Linked DNA regions of Homo sapiens. The protein of the gene in region 6 interacts with the protein of the main gene of each other region in a pairwise test. Each region holds a gene or a part of one and is shown on either strand. Other genes may lie near its edges.

The links.
Region 1: the proteins of H4C11 (region 6) and PHF20 interact in binary tests that used the Homo sapiens proteins (3 or more experiments, as listed by UniProt).
Region 2: the proteins of H4C11 (region 6) and KMT5A interact in binary tests that used the Homo sapiens proteins (3 or more experiments, as listed by UniProt).
Region 3: the proteins of H4C11 (region 6) and KDM4A interact in binary tests that used the Homo sapiens proteins (3 or more experiments, as listed by UniProt).
Region 4: the proteins of H4C11 (region 6) and CBX5 interact in binary tests that used the Homo sapiens proteins (3 or more experiments, as listed by UniProt).
Region 5: the proteins of H4C11 (region 6) and TLE1 interact in binary tests that used the Homo sapiens proteins (3 or more experiments, as listed by UniProt).
Region 7: the proteins of H4C11 (region 6) and HAT1 interact in binary tests that used the Homo sapiens proteins (3 or more experiments, as listed by UniProt).

What each region holds. Positions count from the first base shown.
Region 1 is NC_000020.11:35,778,515-35,782,014, forward strand, and holds part of PHF20 (PHD finger protein 20), read left to right. Parts: intron 1-3,500. UniProt on the Homo sapiens protein: Methyllysine-binding protein, component of the MOF histone acetyltransferase protein complex.
Region 2 is NC_000012.12:123,390,632-123,394,131, reverse strand, and holds part of KMT5A (N-lysine methyltransferase KMT5A), read right to left. Parts: coding exon 3,346-3,500; intron 2,858-3,345; exon of another isoform or gene 2,702-2,857; intron 1-2,701. UniProt on the Homo sapiens protein: Protein-lysine N-methyltransferase that monomethylates both histones and non-histone proteins. Specifically monomethylates 'Lys-20' of histone H4 (H4K20me1).
Region 3 is NC_000001.11:43,656,649-43,660,148, reverse strand, and holds part of KDM4A (lysine-specific demethylase 4A), read right to left. Parts: intron 1-3,500. UniProt on the Homo sapiens protein: Histone demethylase that specifically demethylates 'Lys-9' and 'Lys-36' residues of histone H3, thereby playing a central role in histone code. Does not demethylate histone H3 'Lys-4', H3 'Lys-27' nor H4 'Lys-20'.
Region 4 is NC_000012.12:54,273,623-54,277,122, forward strand, and holds part of CBX5 (chromobox protein homolog 5), read right to left. Parts: intron 1-3,500. UniProt on the Homo sapiens protein: Component of heterochromatin that recognizes and binds histone H3 tails methylated at 'Lys-9' (H3K9me), leading to epigenetic repression. In contrast, it is excluded from chromatin when 'Tyr-41' of histone H3 is phosphorylated (H3Y41ph).
Region 5 is NC_000009.12:81,592,048-81,595,547, forward strand, and holds part of TLE1 (transducin-like enhancer protein 1), read right to left. Parts: intron 1,228-3,500; coding exon 978-1,227; intron 1-977. UniProt on the Homo sapiens protein: Transcriptional corepressor that binds to a number of transcription factors. Inhibits NF-kappa-B-regulated gene expression. Inhibits the transcriptional activation mediated by FOXA2, and by CTNNB1 and TCF family members in Wnt signaling.
Region 6 is NC_000006.12:27,822,774-27,824,980, forward strand, and holds H4C11 (histone H4), read left to right. Parts: upstream 1-1,318; 5' UTR 1,319-1,351; coding exon 1,352-1,663; 3' UTR 1,664-1,707; downstream 1,708-2,207. UniProt on the Homo sapiens protein: Core component of nucleosome. Nucleosomes wrap and compact DNA into chromatin, limiting DNA accessibility to the cellular machineries which require DNA as a template.
Region 7 is NC_000002.12:171,977,961-171,981,460, forward strand, and holds part of HAT1 (histone acetyltransferase type B catalytic subunit), read left to right. Parts: intron 1-1,286; coding exon 1,287-1,403; intron 1,404-3,500. UniProt on the Homo sapiens protein: Histone acetyltransferase that plays a role in different biological processes including cell cycle progression, glucose metabolism, histone production or DNA damage repair. Coordinates histone production and acetylation via H4 promoter binding.

The DNA.
Region 1 (3,500 bases), on a different chromosome or scaffold from region 6:
CAAGTCGGATGGATCACCTGAAGTCAGGAGTTCAAGACCAGCCTGGCTAACACACAGTGAAACTCCGTCTCTACTAAAAATACAAAAAATTAGTCAGGCGTGGTGGCAGGTGCCTGTCATCCCAGCTACTAGGGAGGCTGAGGCAGGAGAATGGCTTGAACCCGAGAGGCAGAGGTTGCAGTGAGCCGAGATTACACCACTGCGCTTCAGCCTGGGCAACAAGAGTGAAACTGTGTCTCAAAAAAAAAAAAAAAAAATTGAACCCTTAATTTGTAATAATGCTTTGACAACTTTGCTAGATCTTGGGCTAGGTCCTACCTGGACCTTCCTCTCTTTTGCCAAATAATGGAACTAATGAGCTGGCAGAAATCCTGTACAATTTTAGAAGCCTAATATGAGTGACTAAATGTAAATAGGACAGTTTTAGGAAAGAGTGGTGGAGCCTGAATCAGTGAACTTTGGGGAAGGAGCAAGAGGAGGGGCTTGGGATTTAAACAAAGGGTTTTTTTTTGTTTTGTTTTGTTTTTTGTTTTTTTTTTGAGGTGGAGTCTCACTTCGTTGCCCAGGCTAGAGTACAATGGTGCAATCTCGGCTCACTGCAACCTCTGCCTCCCGGATTCAAGTGATTCTCCTGCTTCAGCCTCCCAAGTAGCTGGTACTACAGGTGTGTGCCACCTCACCCTGCTAATCTTTTATATTTTTGGTAGAGACTGGCTTTCATCATATTGGCCAGGCTGGTCTCGAACTCCTGACCTCATGATCCGCCTGCCAGGGCCTCCCAAAGTGCTAGGTTTACAGGTGTGAGCCACTGCGCCTGGCCTAAACCAAGGTTTTTATTCAGTGATAGTTTATTCCATGTCAGGAACATAATTCTCAGATTTTAAAGGCTGACTTCCAGGTATCTTAGAAGGATATTTGGGGGTCTCTGTCCTAGTAGAGACCTGATTTTCAAGAGGTCTCTTTCTCATATGGAAAAAGTCCATAGCTGGTGGATTGACATTCCTTTCTTTCTTTTTTTTTTTTTGTTGAGGCGGAGTCTCACTCTGTCGCCCAGAAGTGCAGTGGTGCAACCTCGGCACACTGCAACCTCTGTCTCCTGGGTTCAAGCAATTCTCCTGCCTCAGCCTCCTGAGTAGCTGGGATTACAGGTGCCCGCCACCATGCCTGGGTAATTTTTTGTATTTTTAGTAGAGATGGAGTTTCACCATGTTCGCCAGGCTAGTCTTGAACTCCTGACCTCAAGTGATCCACCCGCCTCGGCCTCCCAAACTGCTGGGATTACAGGCGTGAGCCACTGTGCCCGGCCAATGCCTTTCTTGCTTCTACAGGTGCACAGGTGTTGGGATTTCGAGGTTGTGGAAACTTGGTCTGGAAATGTGGGCATTTTACAATAATGATAACTATAGCTAGCATTTTTGGAGCACTGTCTTAAATGTCATTGAATCCTTACATCTGACCTATTATCCTGTCCTAACAGAGGAGGAAACTGAGATGAGTAATTTGTCCAAGGTCATTTGGCTAATAAGCAGGGCCTCGATTGGAGTCCAGGTTTCTTTGCCTCCTGTCCCAGTGCTCTTACATCCCTCTCTCTCTAGCTAACGTGCTTTTTCCCCTAGAAATTTGAGTAAGTCATTTTAACTACAAATCAAACAGGTGGCAGCCTGGAAACCAGCACTGAGGCACTTTGCCACCCTCACCCCAGATTTCTTTTTTTTTTTTTTTTTTTTTTGGGACGGAGTCTCACATTGTTGCCCAGGCTGGAGTGCAGTGGCACAATCTCAGCTCACTGCAAGCTCCGCCTCCCGGGTTTACGCCATTCTCCTGCCTCAGCCTCCTGAGTAGCTGGGACTACAGATGCCCTCCACGATGCCCGGCTAATTTTTTGTATTTTTAGTAGAGACAGGGGTTTCGCCATGTTAGCCAGGATGGTCTCGATCTGCTGACCTCATAATCCATCCGCCTCGGCCTCCCAAAGTGCTAGGATTACAGGCATGAGCCACCATGCCTGGCTCATTCTTTTTTCTTTTTTTTCTTTTCTTTTTTTTTTTTTGAGACAGAGTCTGACTCTGTCTCCCAGGCTGGAAGGCAGTGGCATGATCTTGGCTCACTGCAGCCTCCGCCTCCCGGGTTCAAGTGATTCTCCTGCCTCAGCCTCCTGAGTACCTGGGATTACAGGCGAACACCACCACACCCGGCTAATCTTTTATATTTTTAGTAGAGACGGGGTTTCACCATGTTGCCCAGGCTGGTCTTGAACTCCTGATCTCAGATGATCCACCAGCCTTGGCCTCCCAAAGTGCTGGGATTACAGACATGAGCCACTGGTGCCTGGCCCTTTTTTTTTTTTTTTTTTTTTTGAGATGGAGTTTCACCTTGTAGCCCAGGCTGGAGTGCAATGGCACGATCTTGGCTCACTGCAACCTCCGCCTCCCGAGTTCAAGTGATTCTCTTACCTCAGCCTCCCAAGTAGCTGGGATTACAGGCATGTGCCAACACGCCTGGCTAATTTTCTGTTGTTAGTAGAGATGGAGTTTTACCATGTTGGTCAGTCTGGTCTCGAACCCCTGACCTCAGGTGCTCCACCCACCTCGGCCTAAAGTGCTGGGATTACAGGCGTGAGCAAGATTTTATTCTTTTTTTTTTTTCTGAGATGGATTCTTGCTCTGTCACCCAGGCTGAAGTGCAGTGACACGATCTTGGCTCACTGCAACCTCCTTCTCTGGGGTTCAAGTGATTCTCATGCCTCAGCCTCCTGAGTAGCTGGGATTATAGGCCTGCACCACCACATCCGGCTAATTTTCATATTTTTGATAGAGACGGGTTTCACCGTATTAGCCAGGTTGGTCTCCGCCCGCCTCAGCCTCCCAAAGTGCTGGGATTACAGGCGTGAGCCACTGTGCCTGGCCTTCATTCTTGACCATGCAAAACATCCTTTAATTGTAGAAGCCCAGTTCTCCCAACTCAAGCTGCCTTTCTACATTTTTCTTTCTTCTTCAATTTTTGTTGTTGTTGTTGTCGTGGTCAGATACACATAATATAAAATTTGCCATTTTAACCATTTTTAAGTTATATAGCTTACTGGTATTAAATAATGTTGTGCAACCATCACCACTCTCCATCTCCGTAACTCCTCAAAATTGAAACTCTGGGCCGGGTCCAGTGGCTCATGCCTGTAATCCCAGCACTTCGGGAGGCTGAGGCAGGTAGATCACTTGAGGTCAGGAGTTCGAGGCCAGCCTGGCCATCATGGCAAAACCCCATCTCTACTAAAAATACAAAAATTAGCTGGGCGTGGTAGCACATGCCTGTGATCCCAGCCACTAGGGAGCCTGAAGCAGGAGAACTGTTTGAACGCGGGGGCGGGTGGAGGTTGCACTGAGCCAGGATTGCTGCACTGCACTCCAGCCTAGGTGACAGAGCGAGACTCCATCTCAAAAAAAAAAAAAATTATAACTCTGTACCCATTAAACACTGACTCCCTCTTTCATGAACCTCCTCCC
Region 2 (3,500 bases), on a different chromosome or scaffold from region 6:
ACTCTGTCTCAAAAAAAAAAAAAAAAAGAAAAAAAAATTAAGTAAATAGTACGCTGCTCACAGATATAAAATGGTGCAGCCACTTTAGAAACAGTTTGACATTTTCCCAAAAAGTTAAACACAGAGTTACCATATGACCCAGCAATTTCACTCCTAGGCATCTATTCCAGAGAATTAAAAACATATGTCCCCAAAAAAATCTATGCAGGAACGTAACAGTTTATTTGTAATAGCCAAAAAGTGGAAACAACCCAAATGTCCATCAACAGATGAATAAACAAAATGTGGCCTATCCACAAAAGGGAGTATTATCCAGCCATAAAAAGGAATGAAGGGCTGGGCAGGGTGGCTCCCCTGAGGTCAAGAGTTCGAGACCAGCCTGGCCAAGATGGTAAAACCCCATCTCTACTAAAAATATAAAAACATTAGCCAGGCGTGGTGGTGTGCGCCTATAATCCCAGCTATTTGGGAGGCTGAGGCAGGAGAATAGCTTGAACCTGGGAGGCAGAGGTTGCAGTGAGCCAAGATTGCACCATTGTACTCCAGCCTGGGTGAGAGAGAGAGACTCCTTCTCAAAAATAAAAAAAAGGAATGAAGCACTGATACTTATTACACCGCGGATGAACCTTGAAGACATGATGCTCAGTGAAAGAAGCCAGACACAAAAGGCTATGTATTTTGTGATTCCATCCATATGAAATGTCCAAAACAGGCAAATCCACAGAGACAGAAAGTACTTTAATGGTTACCTTGGACTAGAGGGATGGGGAATCGAAGGTGACGCCTAATGGGTACCTTTCTGGGGTGATGGAAACGTTCTGGAATTAGACTGTGGTAATGGTTGCGCAACCCTGTGAATATACTAAAAACCACCGACTCATACGCTTTAACATGAACGTTATGATATATTAACTATATCTAGATAAACAAAACAGAAAAATAAATAAATACATTAGGCCGGGCACAGTGACTTCACCTGTAATCCCAGCACTTTGGGAGGCCAAGGCGGGTGGGCCACCTGAGGTCAGGAGTTCAAGACCAGCCTGGCCAACATGGTGAAACCCCATCTCTACTGAAAATACAAAAAATTAGCCGAGCGTGGTGGCGGGCACCTGTAATCTCAGCTACTTGGGAGGTTGAGGCAGGATAATTGCTTGAACCCGGGAGATGGAGGTTGCAGTGAGCCGAGATTGCACCACTGCACTCCAGACTGCAAGACAGAGCGAGACTGTGTCTCAAAAAAAACAAACAAAAACCATTAAAACCATCCAGATCTTTCTTCCTCCTCTACACACCTTCCTGGGTGAAATCAGAGAGAATTAAAGCCAGGACATCAGGCCCAGGAGTGTGTGGTGCCCGTGAACATTATCTATCACTCAGTCTGTATCACAGCAGAATCACGGACCACAGCCTGGACCTTGGGGTCTCCAAAGTCCAGCTGACCTAAATTCTTTTTATTTTTATATTAGAGATGGGGTTTCTCTCTGTTCCCCAGGTTGGAGTGCAGTGGCATGATCATAGCTCACTGCAGCTTTAAACTCCTGGGTGCTAGGGATCCTCCTGCCTTAGCCTCCCAAGCAGCTGGGACTACAGATGCATGCCACCATGCCAGGCTAATTTTTTTTGTTTTCATTGTTGTAGAGATGAGGCCTCACTATGTTGCCCAGGCTGGTCTCAAACTCCTGGGCTCAAGCAATCCTCCTGCCTTGGCCTACCAAAGTGCTGGAATTACAAACCCGAGCCACCATGCCCGGACTCTGACCCAAAATTCTAATCATGGCCATTTAGTAAAACCATGAGCCAAATATACTAGCTTGTATACCAGGCCACCATTTGGTACAATGTATAGACTGCCCTATTTTAAAGGACTAGAGTCCGGGCAACTACCATTTATAGACAGCGCCTCTCCCCAACCCTATGGGCAGGAATTCTAAGTGCCACAGGTCCAGGGATGAGCTGGCAGTCCAGGGGTGAAGAGCTGGCACATGGAGTCCACCACAAAGCCCTTTGGCATCCACGCTGCAACCACCCTTCAAAACAGTCCTGTGTGTGTGAGGTCAGACTCCTCTCTCCCCATTTACAGATGAGAGAACAGAGGCTCAGAAGAGAGCAGCAACCTATCTAAGCCTCCTTCTTTCAGGTGGCAAACTTAAGATTGGAACCCAAGTCATCTGAAGATCAAATAAAACAATATTGCCCTGTGTACCAGGGGAGATCAAGCACAGGGTGGGCTCCTGTCCCCAGTTCAGGGCTTGCCCAGCCCTGGTTCTCAGATCCGGCCCCAGAGGTCATGCCAAATCGTCATTTATGACACTTTCTGTTAGCGAACACAAGGCTTCCTTGTATGGAGCTGCTGGCAGCCAGAGGCTCTGCTTCTTTCAGACAAGTTTTAATTAGAAGAGAGCATGGTGAATTGGGGAAAGCTGACACTCCCCACTGCAGCTTTGAAAGGGAATATTTGGATTAGAGCAAGATGTCTAAGAGGTTTCAGTTTGTTTTGCAAGACCAGACCGTTTTCATTAACCCTGTATTTTCGGGTTTAACATTTTAACTCCAAATCTCATTGCATAGGATGCTGCTTCAGAAACTAACACCAAATGCTTGATTGGCAGGAAACTTTAGAAATGGGGTCAAGGCAGCTAGGCGCGGTGGCTCATGCCTGTAATCCCATCATTTTGGGAGGCCAAGGCAGGTGGATCACCTGAGGTCAGGAGTTTGAGACCAGTCTAGCCAACACGGTGAAATCCCGTCTCTACCAAAAATACAAAAATTAGCTGGGCGTGGTGGCGGCCGCTTGTAATCCCAGCTACTCAGGAGGCTGCAGCAGAAGAATCGCTTGAGCCCAGGAGGCGGAGGTTGCAGTGAGCTGAGATCGTGCCATTGCACTTCAGCCTGAGGGACGAGAGCGGAAATCCGTCTCAAAAAAAGAAAAAGAAATGGGGTCAAGGCCAGCTCATAAAAGGGAAGGAAGTCAGTTCCCTACATGAACACATTAGTTAGGTCTGCAATTGCCTGGTCTGTACAACCTGAATTCATGACTTCTGCACTTTCAGCACTTGTGAGCCTCTCTAATTGTGGGTCAGGTATGTTATTTTTGCAACTAAGCAAGACAATCAAGCTTGAAGGATATGCTAACTCTTGTGAAAGCAGGGAAAACCTGTCAAACCAACAGGGCACACACCCTGGGACAAGCCATTCTTTCAGCAGCAAGACAGAACATGGCTCAAACCTCTCGAATCTGAGACTGAAAAGGTTGGATAAATACATATGTGCATTCTTGCAGAGGACAGAGGCTTCTGCAACCCGACCAGCTGGGATCAGAACGAGGCCATTTCAAAAGCTTACCTTCTCGTTTCCTGTAGATTCCGGCTAATGGTTTCCCCTGGCATTTGACTTCGTGATGTGTAACTGAGTTCTCTTCCTGAAGGGGGAAACGCATTCCAGAGCATTTGTTCGGGCTCATGTAGGAATAGATCTTTGACTGCCCGGTAAATACGTTC
Region 3 (3,500 bases), on a different chromosome or scaffold from region 6:
TCAGTCCCTCAACGTCCCTTCCATGAGCACTGGGCCTGAGGAAGCCTGAGGAAGGTAATGTACACACAGATGTAAACCGGTCTTCCTTAACAAGCACAACATCCTCAACTCTCTGAAGAGACTCTACTTAAACTACACCTTGCTAGATTCAGGTGGCCACCCAGGGAGAAAATGGGCTTACAGACCAAGACCCAAGGTCCCTACATATCCACAGACAACCAAAACCCAGCAGCATGTGAAGAGCTAAGGCTTTCCAACAGCATTCACCTCCCTGAACCAGCCAAAAGGAAGCTGCTCCAAGAGGGCTCATTTGTAAGTACCCCTGCTATATGCCCAAGCGCCCTACGCAGTGGCTGACACTCACCAAGTAATCACTCCTAAAAACAACAAATATTTTAGTAAAAATATAAAATAGCTCTAAAAATATAGATTTTTGCACATCCAATATTCCAATTAGGAAAATACGTACTCACATATACGCATATTTATATCTACCTATCTACATAAAGCCATAAAAATATCTACACTTTGGCCAGGGGTGTGGCTCACACCTGTTATCCCAGCACTTTGGGAGGCCTGGCGGGGGCGGATCACCTGAGGTCAGGAGTTCAAGACCAGCCTGGCCAACATGGTGAAACCTGGTCTCTACTAAAAATACAAAAATTAGAGGGGCGTGGTGGCACACGCCTGTAATCCCAGCTATTTAGGGTGGGGGCTGAGGCAGGAGAATTACTTAAACCCAGGAGGAGGAGTCTGCAGTGAGCTGAGCTAACTAACGCCACTGCACTCCAGCCTCGGCCATAGAGTAAAACTCTGTCTCAAAAAAAGAAAAGAAAACTATACCTTAAAAAAAACTATACAAGATCCTTGCTCTGCTGCCCAGCCTGGAGCACAGTGGTGTGATCATAGCTTACTGTAGCCTCGAACTCCTGGGCTCAAGCAATCCTCCTGCCCTAACCTCCCGAGTAGCCAGGACTGCAAGTGTACACCACCACATCTGGTGTTTTTATTTTTTGTAGAAATGAAGTCCTGCAATGTTGCCCAGGTTGGTCTCAAATTCCTGGCCTCCAGTGATCCTCCAACCTCGGCCTCCCAAAGTGATGGGATTATAGAAGTTAGCCAATGCACCCAGTCTAAAAATATCTATACTCTTTAGCTTAATACTGAAAATTTAATTAAAAAAAAAAAAACTTCTTTTAGATTCAAACTAGCCAAGTACAGTGGCTCATGCCTGTAATCCCAACACTTTGGGAGGCTGAGGCAGGAGGATCACTTGAGCCCAAGAGTTTGAGACCAGCAACATGGCAAAATCCTATTTCTACAAAAACTTTAAAAATTAGCAGAGCTGGCCAGCAGCAATGGCTCACGCCTGTAATCCCAGCACTTGGGAGGCCCAGGCAGGCGGATCACAAGGTCAGGAGATCAAGACCATCCTGTCTAACATGGTGAAACCCTGTATCTACAACAAATACAAAAAATTAGCCGGGTGGTGTGGCGGGCGCCTATAGTCCCAGCTACTTGGGAAGCTGAGGCAGGAGAATTGCTTGAACCCAGGAGGCGGAGATTGCAGTGAGCCTAAATAGCACCACTGCACTCTAGCCCGCGCCACAGAGTAAGACTCCATCTCAAAAAAAAAAAAAAAAAAATCTGACTAAGTAACTGCCTTACACTTTAATGTCAACCTAGGGAATAATAAATTTTAGAGACCTAACATTCTCTCTGAAATACAATTAACTCCCCTATTGTCAACTAATCTGTTTCATGAATTTAGGTTTTTAGGTTGGGCACGGTGGCTCATGCCTGTAATCCCAGCATTTGGGAGGCCAAGGCAGGCTGATCACTTGAGGCCAACAGTTCGAGACCAGCCTGACCAACATGGTGAAACCCCGTCTCTACTAAAAATACAAAAAAATTAGCCAGGCGTGGTGGTGGGCACCTGTAATCCCAGCTACATGGGAGGCTGAGGTAGGAGAATCGCTTAAACCTGGGAGGCAGAGATTGCAGTGAGTGAGATTGTGCCACTGCACTCCAGCCTGGGCAACACAGCGAGACTCTGTCTCAAAAAAAAAAAAAAAAAGTTATGTTTTTACTTTAAAGGTAATCTGCTATGTATTAGGACGAAAGGAATAGACATAGGGCTGGTTAATTTAAAAGGAAAACAAGTGTGCTAAAAGAAGAAAAAGCGAGACCAGCCTGGCCAATATGGTGAAACCCCATCTCTACTAAAAATACAAAAAAATTGGCCGGGCGTGGTGGCGGGCTCCCAGCTACTCGGGAGGCCGAGGAAGGAAAATCACTTGAACCTGGGAGGCGGAGGCTGCAATGAGCCAAGATTGTGCCACTGCACTCCAGCCTGGGTGACAGAGCGACACTCCATCTCAAAAAAAAAAAAAAAAAAGAAAAGAAAAAGCCTTAACAAAAAGGGAAAAAAGGCTGAGGAGACTGAAGCCCCTGGCTGAATTCCATGTGAGAAACAGAAGGCAGGTGAGTTTGCTCCTCATGTGTAGCAAAAATCAGACAATAAGGATGGCAGGAAGGATACAGCCTTTCACCTGCAGAGCCCCACATTTCTTCAACATGCCTTTATGTAAATTCTCTCATCGGTCAGCAGGTTGGCCAGCAAGGTAGATGTTTTAAGAGTTAAGGTTGGCCGGGCACGGTGGCTCACACCTGTAATCCCAGCCCTTTGGGAGGCCAAGGCGGGTGGATCACGAGGTCAAGAGATCGAGACCATCCTGGCCAACATGGTGAAACCCTGCCTCTGCTAAAAATACAAAAATTAGCTAGGTGTGGTGGTGGGCGCCTGTAATCCCAGCTGCTCAGGAGACTGAGGCAGGAGAATTGCTTGAACCCAGGAGGCGGAGGCTGCAGTGAGCCGAGATCACGCCACTGCACTCTAGCCTGGCGACAGAGCGAGATTCTGTCTCAAAAAAAAAAATAAATAAAAGGAGTTAAGGTGTCAGCCGGATGCAGTGGCTCATGCCTATAATCCCAGCACTTTGGGAGGCTGAGGCAGGAGGATCGCTTGAGCCCAGGAGTTCAAGACCAAACTGGGCAGCAAATAATAAAAAATATTAGCTGAGCGCGGTAGCACATGCCTATCTATACCTCCAGTTACTTGGGAGGCTGAGCAAGGAGGATCATTTTGAGCCTGGGCAGTCGAGGCTGCAGTAAGCCATGATTGCACCACTACACTCCAACTTGGGTGACAGTAGAGACGGTGAAACCCCGTCTCTACTAAAAATACAAAAATTAGCCAGGCGTGGTGGCAGGCGCCTGTATGTAATCCCAGCTACTCGGGAGGCTGAGACAGGAGAATTGCTTGAACCCGGGAGGTGGAGGTTGCAGTGAGCCGAGACTGCACCATTGCACTCCAGCCTGGGGAACGAGCGAGACTCCACCTCAAAAAAAAAAAAAGATGGAGTAGTCAGAGCTGAACAAGGAAACACAAAATTTATTCTCTGTGAATCTCAGGAAAAATGAGAACTAAACATTAAAAA
Region 4 (3,500 bases), on a different chromosome or scaffold from region 6:
AGTTCTGATGCAAGTACTCAAAAGAGAAGACAATGTGAAAACAGAACAGAGAGATATGCCAAGGAATGCTGACCATAATCAGAAGCTAAAAGAGGCAAAGAACAGTCTCTCTCCTAGAGCCTCCAGAGGGGCCTCAATATCTTGATTGCAGACTTCTGGGCTCCAAAATTTTGAGAAGAATAAATTCCTCTTGTTTTAAACCACCAAGTCTGTGGTAATTTGTTATAGCAGCCACAGGAAACTAATACATAGGGGGAATAAAATTTTAAACATCATAAAGTGGACATATATAAAACATTACTGATCCAAAAAGAATTGTGTTTCAGATAACCCAAAGAATGTCTAAAACCTTTAATCCCTCATTTCAAAGGGTAAATTGAGGCTACTGCAGGATACAATTTGCCCCAAAGAAATTGGCAGATCTGAGAAGAGAAACTCAGAAAGATCTAATATTTACATAGCTGCTAACAAGAACAGTGTAGGTTTTTCTGCAAACATGCTAGTTGGTAGAGCTCCTGGACAGACTAAACATAGGCAGCAGTTGTCACAGTGGGTGTTCTTCCAGCACAAGTGTAAAGCTGTCATCAGAAATGAATATGTGGCTTCGAGTGGCTTACAGAAATCCAACAAATCTGCATCTTGGACTCTGGACAAGCGAACTCTTCTCAGGATGACCTGGACTCCTTCCTATTAGTACAATGATCAGTTAAAATCATTCTCTATAAGCAAGGAAGAAAAATAAAAGTTTATATCAGGAGAAAAAGATGATTGCCCAGAGTCCGAGTTCACGAATAGCAGATATGTAAACAGCCATACTAAGTCAAGTGGTATCTCATGTTGTAATTTATTACTTTTAAAATCAATATCCATAACACAGCTTTAGGCCCAGTTTCATGTAAGATGAATGGAAATAAAAATAATCTAAGTAAAAGGACAAAATAAAGACTAGAAATGCTTTACCAGGACAGTTATTAATTAAATGGGCTATACCAATAAGATATGGAAATCATGCTATGTGGTTAAAGACCTCAATAGAGCCGGGCACAGTGGCTCATGCCTGTAATTCTAACACTTTGGGAGGCCGAGGCGGTTGGATCATGAGGTCAGTAGATTGAGACCATCCTGGCTAACACGGTGAAATCCTGTCTCTACTAAAAATACAAAAAAATTAGCCAGGCATGGTGGCACGTGCCTGTAGTCCCAGCTACTCGGGAGGCTGAGGCAGGAGGATCGCTTGAATCCGGGAGGCAGAGGTTGCAGTGAGCCGAGATCACGCCACTGCACTCTAGCCTGGGTGACAGAGCGCGACTCTGTCTCAAAAACAAACAAATCTCAATAGAAACAAAAAGCGACTTAGTCTTCCTCAAAAATCTTTGTACCCTGATACCAAACCTTTCTCTTTTCTAGAGTATTGTTAAGGGCTCTGAGAATCTCCAGAATTTCCCTAGCCATATACAAATCCAGCCGCTTCAAATGTAGGCTCACTCTTTCTTTCCCCAACTATCATCCTGCTCACCTACTACCCAAATTGAAGCTTTCCACTTACTAGTTTTCAGACAGAATATATTCCCCTTTAGTAAACACCCCTTTTAGATTTGGTTGCAATAGTAGGTATGTCTCTAAGTTTTTTTTTCTTTTTTGAGACAGTCTCGCTCTGTCACCCAGGCTGGAGTACAGTGGTGCAATCTCGGCTCACTGTAACCTCCGCCTCCCAGGCTCAGCAATTCTCCTGCCTCAGCCTCCAGAGTAGCTGGGGCTACAGGCGTGTGCCACCACGCCCGGCTAATTTTTTGTATTTTTAGCGGAGATGGGGTTTCACCGTGTTAGCCAGGATGGTCTCAATCTCCTGAACTCATGATCTGCCCGCCTCGGCCTCCCAAAGTGCTGGGATTACAGGCATAAGCCACTGCGCCCAGGCAGTATGTCTCTAAGTTCTAAGCACAAGCGTTATAACTTCTGTAATTAGAGGCCCAACACGTATCACATTGGAAGTTAGGATTTCTAACTCTGTGATAGTACCAGAATTTCAATGAAAAATTACCCACTAAAATTTCACCACCAGAGAGAAAAGTTCATCATATCTATTAACTACCACATTGGAGGCTGGGCACAGTGGCTCACACCTGTAATCCCAGCACTTTGGGAGGCCAAGGCAGGCAGATCACCTAAGGTCAGGAGTTTGAGGCCAGCCTAACCAACATGGAGAAACCCCGTCTCTACTAAAAATTAGCCGGACGTATGCCTGTAATCCCAGCTACTCAGGAGGCTGGAGCAGGAGAATTGCTTGAACCTGGGAGGCGGAGGTTGAGGTGAGTCAAGATCGTGCCACCGCACTCCAGACTGGGCAACAAGAGCGAGACTCCATTCCAAAAAAAAAAAAAAAAAAAACCTATCACATTGGGAGACATTTTGCAATATTTTTATTGTTTTCCCTCTTTAAGCATTGTGAGACTTCACAATAAAACAAGCAGTTTTCACTTGCACACGACAGTAAACTAGAAAGTCTCGGTTTGGCTCCTATAATCTTTCAAAGTAAAACACATGAGTAAAAACACCAAATAATGGGTCACTGCTTAATCTGTTTACATAGATACTCCTTGATGGGGTTATGTCCTGATAAACCCATCATAGGTTGAAAATATGAAAAATTGAAAATTCATTTCCTACACCTAATCTACTGAACATCATAGCTTAGCCTAGCCTACCTTAAATGTGTTCAGAATACTTACATTAGCCTACTGTTGGACAAAATCACCTAACACAAAGCCTGTTTTATAATAAAGTGTTGAATATCTCATGTAATTGGTTGATTACTGTACCGAAAGTGAAAAACAGAATGGTTATGTGGATACTTGAAATATGGTTTCTACTGAATGCAAATTGCTTTCCACACCGTTGTAAAGGTGAAAAATCTTAAGTCGAAATATCACAAGCAAGGGACCATCTGTACAAGTGGCTGGGGCTGGAGATGGAAGGAACTGACTCAGAAAGCAATCAAAGTTGGCATGATTTGGTGACCTATTCTTCAGATCAGCAGTCTTTTTCCCCCAAAACCCTGGGTCTATAAACAGCTGTGAAATCAGTTCAATGGAAATTGACTGCTTTCTTAAGACAATGAAATAGTATACTGCAGACAAAAGAATATCAGAGTACTCTGCACGTTTAGTGAAATGTTTCAATGTGTGTACAGGATTAGTGTAAAATATATTTCTTATTGCGGTCAAAAAAGTTTTGAGACGTGGATCCAAAAGAATCCCAGGAAAAGAAAGAGGCTAGCTAGAATCAAGTGAAAAAGAAGGATGTGAGGCAAAGTCTACCTTCTTCAAAAACATATTTGCCATTATTTTAGGAAGCCAAACAAGGACAAGATGCAATCAATCGTATGTGTAAGTTTAAGCAGCAAAAAGTGGTAAAAACTTTTTTTTTCTGAGACAAGGTCTCACTCTGTCGCCCAGACTGGGGTGCAGTGGCATCATCTCGGCTCACTGCAAACTCTGCCT
Region 5 (3,500 bases), on a different chromosome or scaffold from region 6:
CTGGGGTTATGGTTTAGAAATCGGAACATGGCCGGGCGCGGTGGCTCACGCCTATAATCCCAGCACTTTGGAAGGCCAAGGCGGGCGGATCACAAGGTCAGGAGATCGAGACCATTCTGGCTAACATGGTGAAACCCCGTCTCTACTAAAAATACAAAAAATTAGCCGGGCGTGGTGGTGGGCGCCCGTAGTCCCAGCTACTTGGGAGGCTGAGGCAGGAGAACGGCGTAAACCCCGGAGGCGGAGCCTGCAGTGAGCCGAGATCCGGCCACTGCACTCCAGCCTGGGCGACAGAGCAAGACTCCGTCTCAAAGAAAAAAGAAAAAAGAGATCCGAACATGTCCCAACATGTTTTATGTCCCTGAAAAATGCTAAATGGTATTCTCAGGCTCTGAGCGGACGTGGCTTAGGTACTCTGGGAAAGCATTCTCACTGCTCTCTTTCGTTGATGGCTGCCCCGGGTCTTTGCAGTGACAGCCTTTAACCCTTTCCTGAAGTTAAGGCCATAAAACCTAACCAGCTCTCTCAGGTCTCCCTTAAAAACACAGACCCTGTTCAGAATGGTTTTTATGCCATGTTATCAAATATTTACTATTCTATATTTATCTAAAGGCTGTAGGTCAATTAAAAAACGAGTGGATGGCAGGGATCAGAGTCCAGGCCCAGTTGTGCTTTTGTCCATTAAATGGGAAACTCTCTTTTGTAATACACATCCATACATGAGGAGAGCCTCTGTAAACCACTGTAAAATATTTTTTAAAAAGAAATCCATCAACTCTGGGATTTAGCCAGTACAACAGCAACAAATGAAACCTTCGCATTTAAATGGGGAGCCGAGGGGGTTAAATAACCAACACAGGAAACAGAAGGGGCTTCTATTTCCTCATAATGGGAATAAAACCCAGGCCCACACAGCTATTTCCTTATTGAATCTCCAGGGAGAAATTGCCCTTGTGCACCAGTTCCTGTTCACTCACCAGACAGTCGAGCTGGGAGACAGGGCTCTTATTGCCAGGGTGGCTGATGTCCCAGACCTTGACGCAGCCCTTCCCGCCTGTGTACACGTGTCTCGTGGGGTTGCTGATGGTCACAGCGCACACCACCTCCCCGTGGTTGAGGGTGTTGATCTGGCGAGCATGCCGGGGGATTCCGGGTCCGATGAGGGCGTCGGGGGGAAAAGGGACAGGCTGCATCTGACCGTCTGCAGTAACGTGGAAGGAGTATGCACTTTTGGAAAAACGATTGGAGAGAAGACAGAAAACACATTTACAGAGGAAGCAATCCCTATCTCGGCAATGTGCTACGACTATGAAAAAGATGAAAAAAAGGAAAGATTCTCTTGTATAGTTTCCTTTGAAATCAATACAAATTGAAGCATTTACTGCTGGTGCAAATTTAAAATAATTAATAGCAGAAATCTAGCGTGTACCAAATGACATATATATTGAACTGTATGTAAAATTTTTTAAGGGTTTTAAATTGTTCTTACCCATTCTGTAAAGCATTCCCTCAAATCTCATTATAAAACACTTAATGTACTTCCAAATGAACATAAAATACCTCCTTCCATGTATCTTGTGTAATTGTATGATTTCTTAGTATAATTTTAAATGATTGTTTTCCCTGCTAAAGATGAAGCCCTTAAGAACTAATAATAATTAAACAGAGTAGATATATTTCAACAGCAAAAACAACCTCCAAAAAAACAGCTTTCTAAAAATACCAGTTTATGGTATGGACTTCAACTTTCTCTTGCTTAAGGAAGAGAAAATAAGAGATTATCTTATATGGCTGTAAACAGAGATTTTAGGTTTCCTACTCAACAATCTTCCTTGCCTACCTTGGTCAGGAACGCCATTATATAAAACAGCAAAGTGTGCAGCTAAAAAACTACTCTTCCCCGGTCTCCTTTAGCCCAGCCTGCCTATGTTCTGACCAATGAGGTGTAAGAAGAAGCTGTTGGATGGCATTTTGAGGAAGCTCTGAACTTGAAAGAGGGGAGAGGGATGGGGGATATGGGAACTCTCTGTAACTTTCCACTCTATTTTGCCAAGAACCTATAACTGCTCTAAAAAAATAAATAGGGAGAGAGCATACTTGCCCTCTTCTCTTCTTCCTTCCCACTGCCTGAGCTAAGAGCAAGATGACTGGTGCTCCTACGGCCCCTCTGGGCCACAAGTTGATTTCAAAGACAGAAATCAATTGCTGGATAGCAAAGACTTGGAACCAACCCAAATGCCCATCAATGACAGAATGGATAAAGAAAATGTGGCACATATACACCATGGAATACTATGCAGCCATAAAAAAAAGGATGAGTTCATGTCCCTTGCAGGGACATGGATGAAACTGGAAACCATCATTCCCAGCAAACTAACACAGGAACAGAAAACCAAACCCTGCATGTTCTCACTCATAAATGGGAGTTGGACAATGAGAACAATGAGATCGCGCCACTGCACTCCAGCCTAGGCGACAAGAGCAAGACTACGTCTTAAAAAAAAAAAAAATTATGCACATTCTACTTTGAAGACCACTACTTCCACTTTCTTAACTTGAAATCACTAAGAGAGCTAGAAGTTCAAACCATAAACAATAAGTGAAGTATGCACTGCTTCCTCCTTCCCATTACCCTCGAGAAAGTCTGGGCCCTTTCTGGAGCTTGTCATTGGCAGCTTTAAATATAATGTAAACACCATGAGTACTAACACAGAGCTTAAATTTTCATTTTAATACAAACTCAAATTTTGTAAAGTAACTTAGCAAGCACAAAACTGAAAACCGATTATGCCAGGTCTCTAGCACCCTGCACTTAAAACCCACATACATTTGCTTGAAAATAAAATGCATGCTATTATCTTCCCTCCATAAAAGCAAAATATCAGACACATGAAGACTTTTAAACTTCCCCTCCACTCAATCACAGGACATAATCTCAATCTGTTATCTGCTGGCAAATTGGTTCCAGTAACTAATAGTAAATAGCTTTTTGGCCCAAATCCTTAATGTTACTCTTAATTTGAATGAATAAGCACGTATAATGGGAACCATGGAGACTGTCCTGGGGAATAAATACACATATAAAAACAATATAGCTCAAAGCCCTCACATCACCAAACCACTCAATCTCATTTTTTATCCAACAGGATTATTTGGTGTCCTTAGCAATATATCGAGTCCACATGATATTTCAACATGCACATTATAGTTAGTTGAACAGGAACCTATGCCACTTATTATGGGATACTTGGAGTCATAATCAAATAGCATTTTGTTGCCCTTGAAGACTGCCACAGAACTATGGGAGTTTAAGTCTATTCATGTCCTACAAGAATTCTAGGCTTTGAAGAATGCTCAACGAACAAAGTCCAGTAGCCAAGTTCTATGACTCAGAATCAGGCTCCATACTCTGGGTCCAAAAACAACAAAAAAATTGCCAGGTGATACTGAAGAAATGACAAGTAAATTTCCATAAAATTAAACAATTGAGGCTGGGCGCG
Region 6 (2,207 bases):
AAATCAATAAATCTTGCTGGGTAACTAGTTCATTAACTCAAGACTCAATCAACAAAACTAAAAGTAAATTCTGAATGTAACATAGAATTTAAAAACCATAATACTCAATGCTGGTAAACATACACAGCAGTTACTGCTGGCAAAAGTGAATGGAATAAAACTTTTGAGGAAAATGTAGTAACAGTTATCAAAATACCTTAAAATCTGCATCCTTTGTGACAAAGCGCTTCAATTCTACATTTTCCTCAGGAAGTAAATTTTGTACAGTTCTCCTTTAAATTAGGAAAAGAAAATTAGCACATTATTGCTAAGTACTAGAAATACTGTGAAAGTGGACCTAGAAAATTCTTATGATGGAATATTAAGCAGATATAAATTACTGCTTTTAAAATTTTTCCTAATGTGAATTTTCTAAGCTTTTAACCGTGAACATAGATTCCCTTTGGCAAACCACCTTGATTAAATTATAGACAGAATAGAATTTTGGTAATAGTTCCGAGTATGTATAATGTTAAAGGTGGTACTTAATCCGCAGGGAAAAGATGAATTATTTAAAAAATCTGGTTGATTAATAAATTCCTAGGGAATTGGTTAACACTGTAGCAGGCAGAATTCAGGAGAAGAAATAATAAAGACATTAAAATCACTTTTGTAAACTTTTTAAATAAGGGAAATTGATTAAAACAACGCGAAGTTGTAAAATGCCATATACTGCATACATTTTGTGGGAAAAAATGTGCATTTATCTGCTCACCAAATTATCTTATTAGCTAGCAGTAGAGCTCTTTGTGTGATGGGAAGATGGGATAACAGGCTGTTGTTACTGTACTGGTTTTTTTTTTTAATATATTTAAAAAAAAGAGTGTCTCCTAAAGTGTAAGCGCTATCATGCTGGACTAATGTTTTAATTTAATTTAATTGTTGTCTTGGTAGAGATGGGGTCTCGCTATTTTGCTCACGCAGATCTCAAACTCCTGACGCCCAGGTACACTCCCATCTCGGCCTCCTAAAATGGTGGGATCACAGACGTCAGCCACCGAGCCCGGTCACTTTTTTGTATTCCCCACAGTATTGATGTATATCTTCTGCGTTCAAAAGCAATTTTTTAAAGCCTCATAACGTGGTAACAGAATACTTTGCACATTACAAAATTCAGAACACGGAAACAAGAAGCTCGCTTTTTTTTCCCCCCTATTTCGGTTTGGCCCTTTAGATTTCCCCTCCCCCACCGGGGCGGGACTTCCCGCCGACTTCTTTCAGGTTCTCAGTTCGGTCCGCCAACTGTCGTATAAAGGCGCTGCCTCAGGCCAGAGGCCTCACAAAGCGTTGGGTGAGACTCCTCTTGCTCGTCATGTCTGGCCGCGGCAAAGGCGGGAAGGGTCTTGGCAAAGGCGGCGCTAAGCGCCACCGTAAAGTACTGCGCGACAATATCCAGGGCATCACCAAGCCGGCCATCCGGCGCCTTGCTCGCCGCGGCGGCGTGAAGCGCATCTCCGGCCTCATCTACGAGGAGACTCGCGGGGTGCTGAAGGTGTTCCTGGAGAACGTGATCCGGGACGCCGTGACCTATACAGAGCACGCCAAGCGCAAGACGGTCACCGCCATGGATGTGGTCTACGCGCTCAAGCGCCAGGGCCGCACCCTCTACGGTTTCGGTGGTTGAGCGTCCCTTTCTATCAATAAAAGGCCCTTTTCAGGGCCACCCTACTTTCTCAGCTGAAGAGTGGTAACACTGAGGAGTGGTTTTGGTAGGTACGGAATTTTGCTTGGTTCTGAGTCAGTTCTGGGGGGAACAGTTTTTTGAACACAGCGGCACACGTGTGGCCATTCACCCGGGGTCACTGTAGGCAGGACTAATTACGAGATGTAATGTCTAAACTTGCTCAAAATTCGTAAGCTTGTTTACGTAATGGAGAAAATACTCGTACACAGAATGTGCAGTACCAGAAACGTTTATGTAACCCCCGTAGTGAGCTTGACAGTGGTAATCGGAAATCGTTTTTGAAAAGCCTCCAAATCCACAAGTATTTGTGGGTTTTTTTTGTTTCGTCTTTGTCTGCGAGTTGGAGTGCAGCGGCGCGATCTCGGCTCACTGCAACTTCCGCCTCCTGGGTTCAAGCGATTCTCCTGCCTCAGCCTGCCGAGTAGCTGGGATTACAGTTTTGCGCCACTACACCCAGCTAATTTTTGTATTAGTAGAGATGGGG
Region 7 (3,500 bases), on a different chromosome or scaffold from region 6:
CAGAAAAACTGTGGTTCTCCTTTGGCTTCAGTGCTACCAAAAACTTCCTGATTCTTCTGATATTTCCTTGATACCATTTGTCTTTTTTTTTCCTTTTCCTTTTTTTTTTTTTTTGAGACAGGGTCTCTTGCTCTGTCACCTGAGGTGGAGTACAGTGGTGTAATCACGGCTACGGCTCACTGCAGCCTCAACCTCCTGGGCTCAAATGACTCTCCCACCTCAGCCTCCCAAGTAGCTGGGACTGCAGGGGTACGCCACCACACCTGGCTAATTTTTGTAGAGACAGGGTTCCTACAGGCTGTTCTCAAACTGCTAGGCTCAAGCGATCTGCCCACCTTGGCCTCCCAAAGTGCTGGAACTACAGGCATGAGCCACCATGTCCAGCCCTGTCTGCTTTTTAACTGTCACTGTACTAGCAGGTTTCTGACCTTTCTCCTTTTATCACTGTATATGCTTTCCTCAGGTGACCTTAACCAGCCTTATGGTTTTAACTCTTACCTATATACTGACATTGCTTAAATCCTTGCCCTTAGACTAGAATTTTCTTCAGATTTTCTATTTTCTGCTGCCTCCCAAATCTCTCCTAGGCTGTGAAAACTCACATTTTCACATCCTTCTCTCAGTTTTTCCTCTCATATGTTTCTAGAGTCCTTGACCCCTTGGTCTTCTTGTGCTGTTCCAGTTCATGCCCTCATCGTTTTTTATGTGATGTAATAACTCAGCTTCTTGATTGGTCTCTATGCACTTCTTTTTGCTACCATTTCTTTGTAGCTGAAAGAGTGACTTATTTAAAACTCAAAATTTGTGCATATTGCTTACATTCCTATTTAAAATCTGTCATGAAGGCTGGGGCAGTGGCTTACGCCAGTAACTCTAATACTTTGGGAGGTTGAGGCAGGAGGATTGCTTGAAGCTGGGAGTTGAAGATCAGCCTGGGCAACAAAGTGAGATCCCATTTCTACAAAAAAAAAAAAAAAAAAAAATAGCCGAGTGTGGTGCATATGCCTATGGTCCCAGCTGCTCAGGAGGCTGAGGTGGGAGGATGGCTTGAGTCTAGGAGGTTGAGGCTGCAGTGAACTATGATCGTGCCACATTAAATTATCCATACCATAATCATTTGTGTTACCCACTAGACTGCTTGAGGGCAACTACTTTTATTGCCTTTCCTCTGGTTTCTAGCACAATTCCTTGCTCATGGCAGATATTAAATATATCCTGTGTTCTTTTGGGAAAGTGTCATTATTTTTACTTTGAAAATGTTCGCATTTTCTTTTGTTTCATTCTAGCAACACGCTAGAAGGGTTTATGAAATTCTTCGACTACTGGTAACTGACATGAGTGATGCCGAACAATACAGAAGCTACAGACTGGATATTAAAAGAAGACTAATTAGCCCATATAAGGTAGGACTTTCAAGAATCTTAAACACTGTATTCTTTTCACTGTTTAAAACAGAAGAAAAGCTACCAAATATCAGTATATGAGAGAGTCCAAGTCATTTTGTAAAATTAACTTTTACAAAAGTAGAAATATTCTTCCAGTAATTTATAAAAATTCTCACTCATGGCCGGGCGTGGTGGCCCACACCTGTAATCCCAGCACTCAGGGAGGCCAAGGCGGGTGGATCACCTCAGGTCAGAAGTTCAAGACCAGCCTGGCCAACGTGGTGAAACCCTGTCTCTACTAAAAATACAAACATTAGCTAGGCTTGGTGGTGGGCGCCTGTAATACAGTGACTTGGGAGGCTGAAGCAGGAGAATCGCTTGAATCCAGGAGGTGGAGGTTGCTGTGAGCCAAGATTGCACCATTGCACTCCAGCCTGGGTGACAAGAGCAAAACTCCATCTGAAAAGAAAAGAAAAGAAAAGAAAAAAAACCCGGGTGCAGTGGCTCACGCCTGTAATCCCAGCACTGTGGGAGGCCGAGGTAGGTGGATCACTTGAGGTCAGGAGTTCAAGACCACCCTGGCCAACATGGCGAAACCCCATCTCTACTAAAAATACAAAAATTAGCTGGGCATGATAACACGTGCCTGTAATCCCAGCTGTTTGAGAGGCTGAGGCACGAGAATCACTTGAACCCAAGAGGTGGAGGTTGCAGTGAGCTGAGATTGTGCCACTGCACTTCAGCCTGGGTGACAGAATGAAATTGTGTCTCAGAACAAACAAACAAACTTATCCCAAGGATAGTCTACCATGGTTAGCTTTTCTTTCATTTGTATGCATCTTTAAAAAATCTGAATGCCTAGTCTCTTCCCTAACAAATTATGTTGTTTTTCCCAAGTTTCTTGTCTTCTCAGTTGTTATATATATATATTCTCTTTTTTCTCTCTTCCCAGATAAAAGCAAAGTTATACATATATATTCTCTTTGCTTTTGCTTTCTTCTTCCTAAAAATAGCCTTTATTGCTATTTATTAATATAATCTTTGTACTTTACCATAGCCGAAACCATGTTAGTACTATTATATTTTTAAACATTCTTCTTGCCCTTTTTTCCCACTTCGTCGTCATCTTCCATATTTTCCCTCCTAGATCAAATTGGCCTTATCATTTGGACATTGTCAGGATGGATATTGTTTATGCCACCTTATGTGAATGAAAATTTGCTATCTAGGCAAGGCGTGGTGGCTCATGCCTGTAATCCCAGCACTTTGGGAGGCCGAGGTGGGCAGGTCACCAGAGCTCAGGAGTTCAAGACCAGCCTGGCCAACATGGCAAAACCTCGCCTCTACTAAAAATACAAAAATTAGTTGGGTGTGGTGGTGGGTACCTGTAATCCCAGCTACTTGGGAGGCTGAGGCAAGGGCATCACTTGAACTCGGGAGGCAGAGGTTGCAGTGAGCTGAGATCATACCACTGCAATCCAGGCTGGGCAATGGAGCAAGACTCCATCTCAAAAAAAAAAAAAAAATTTAAAAAAAAAAAAAGGCCAGGTGCGGTGGTTCACGTCTATAATCCCAGCAATTTGGGAGGCTGAGGCGGGCAGATCATCTGAGGTCAGGAGTTCGAGACCAGCCTGGCCAACATGGTGAAACCCTGTGTCTACTAAAAATACACAAATTAGCCAGGCATGGTGGGAGGTGCCTGTAATCCCAGCTTCTCCGGAGGCTGAGGCAGGAGAATTGCTTGAACCTGGGAGGCAGAGGTTGCAGTGAGCCAAGATTGCGCCATTGTACTCCAGCCTGGGTGACGAGCAAAATTCCATCTCAAAAAAGAAGAAAATTTGTCATCTAGTTGCAGCTGAGTAGTGGGATGATTGGCAGAATATTTAATTTATTCAACATATAATTATTGAGTACAGTTGCTCAATGATAAAATGTTGTTGCTGCATTTATATATACTATACCTATAGGGTTATACATCACAATAGCTGGGAACATAAGTGACCAAGTTGATTCTACATTACAATTTGAGAAAGTAAATTAACTAACTGTATCAGGTACACATAGTTTTGGTTTTCCTTTGTAAATTTAAAGAAAATTTAAGTTTTATTTGCCATG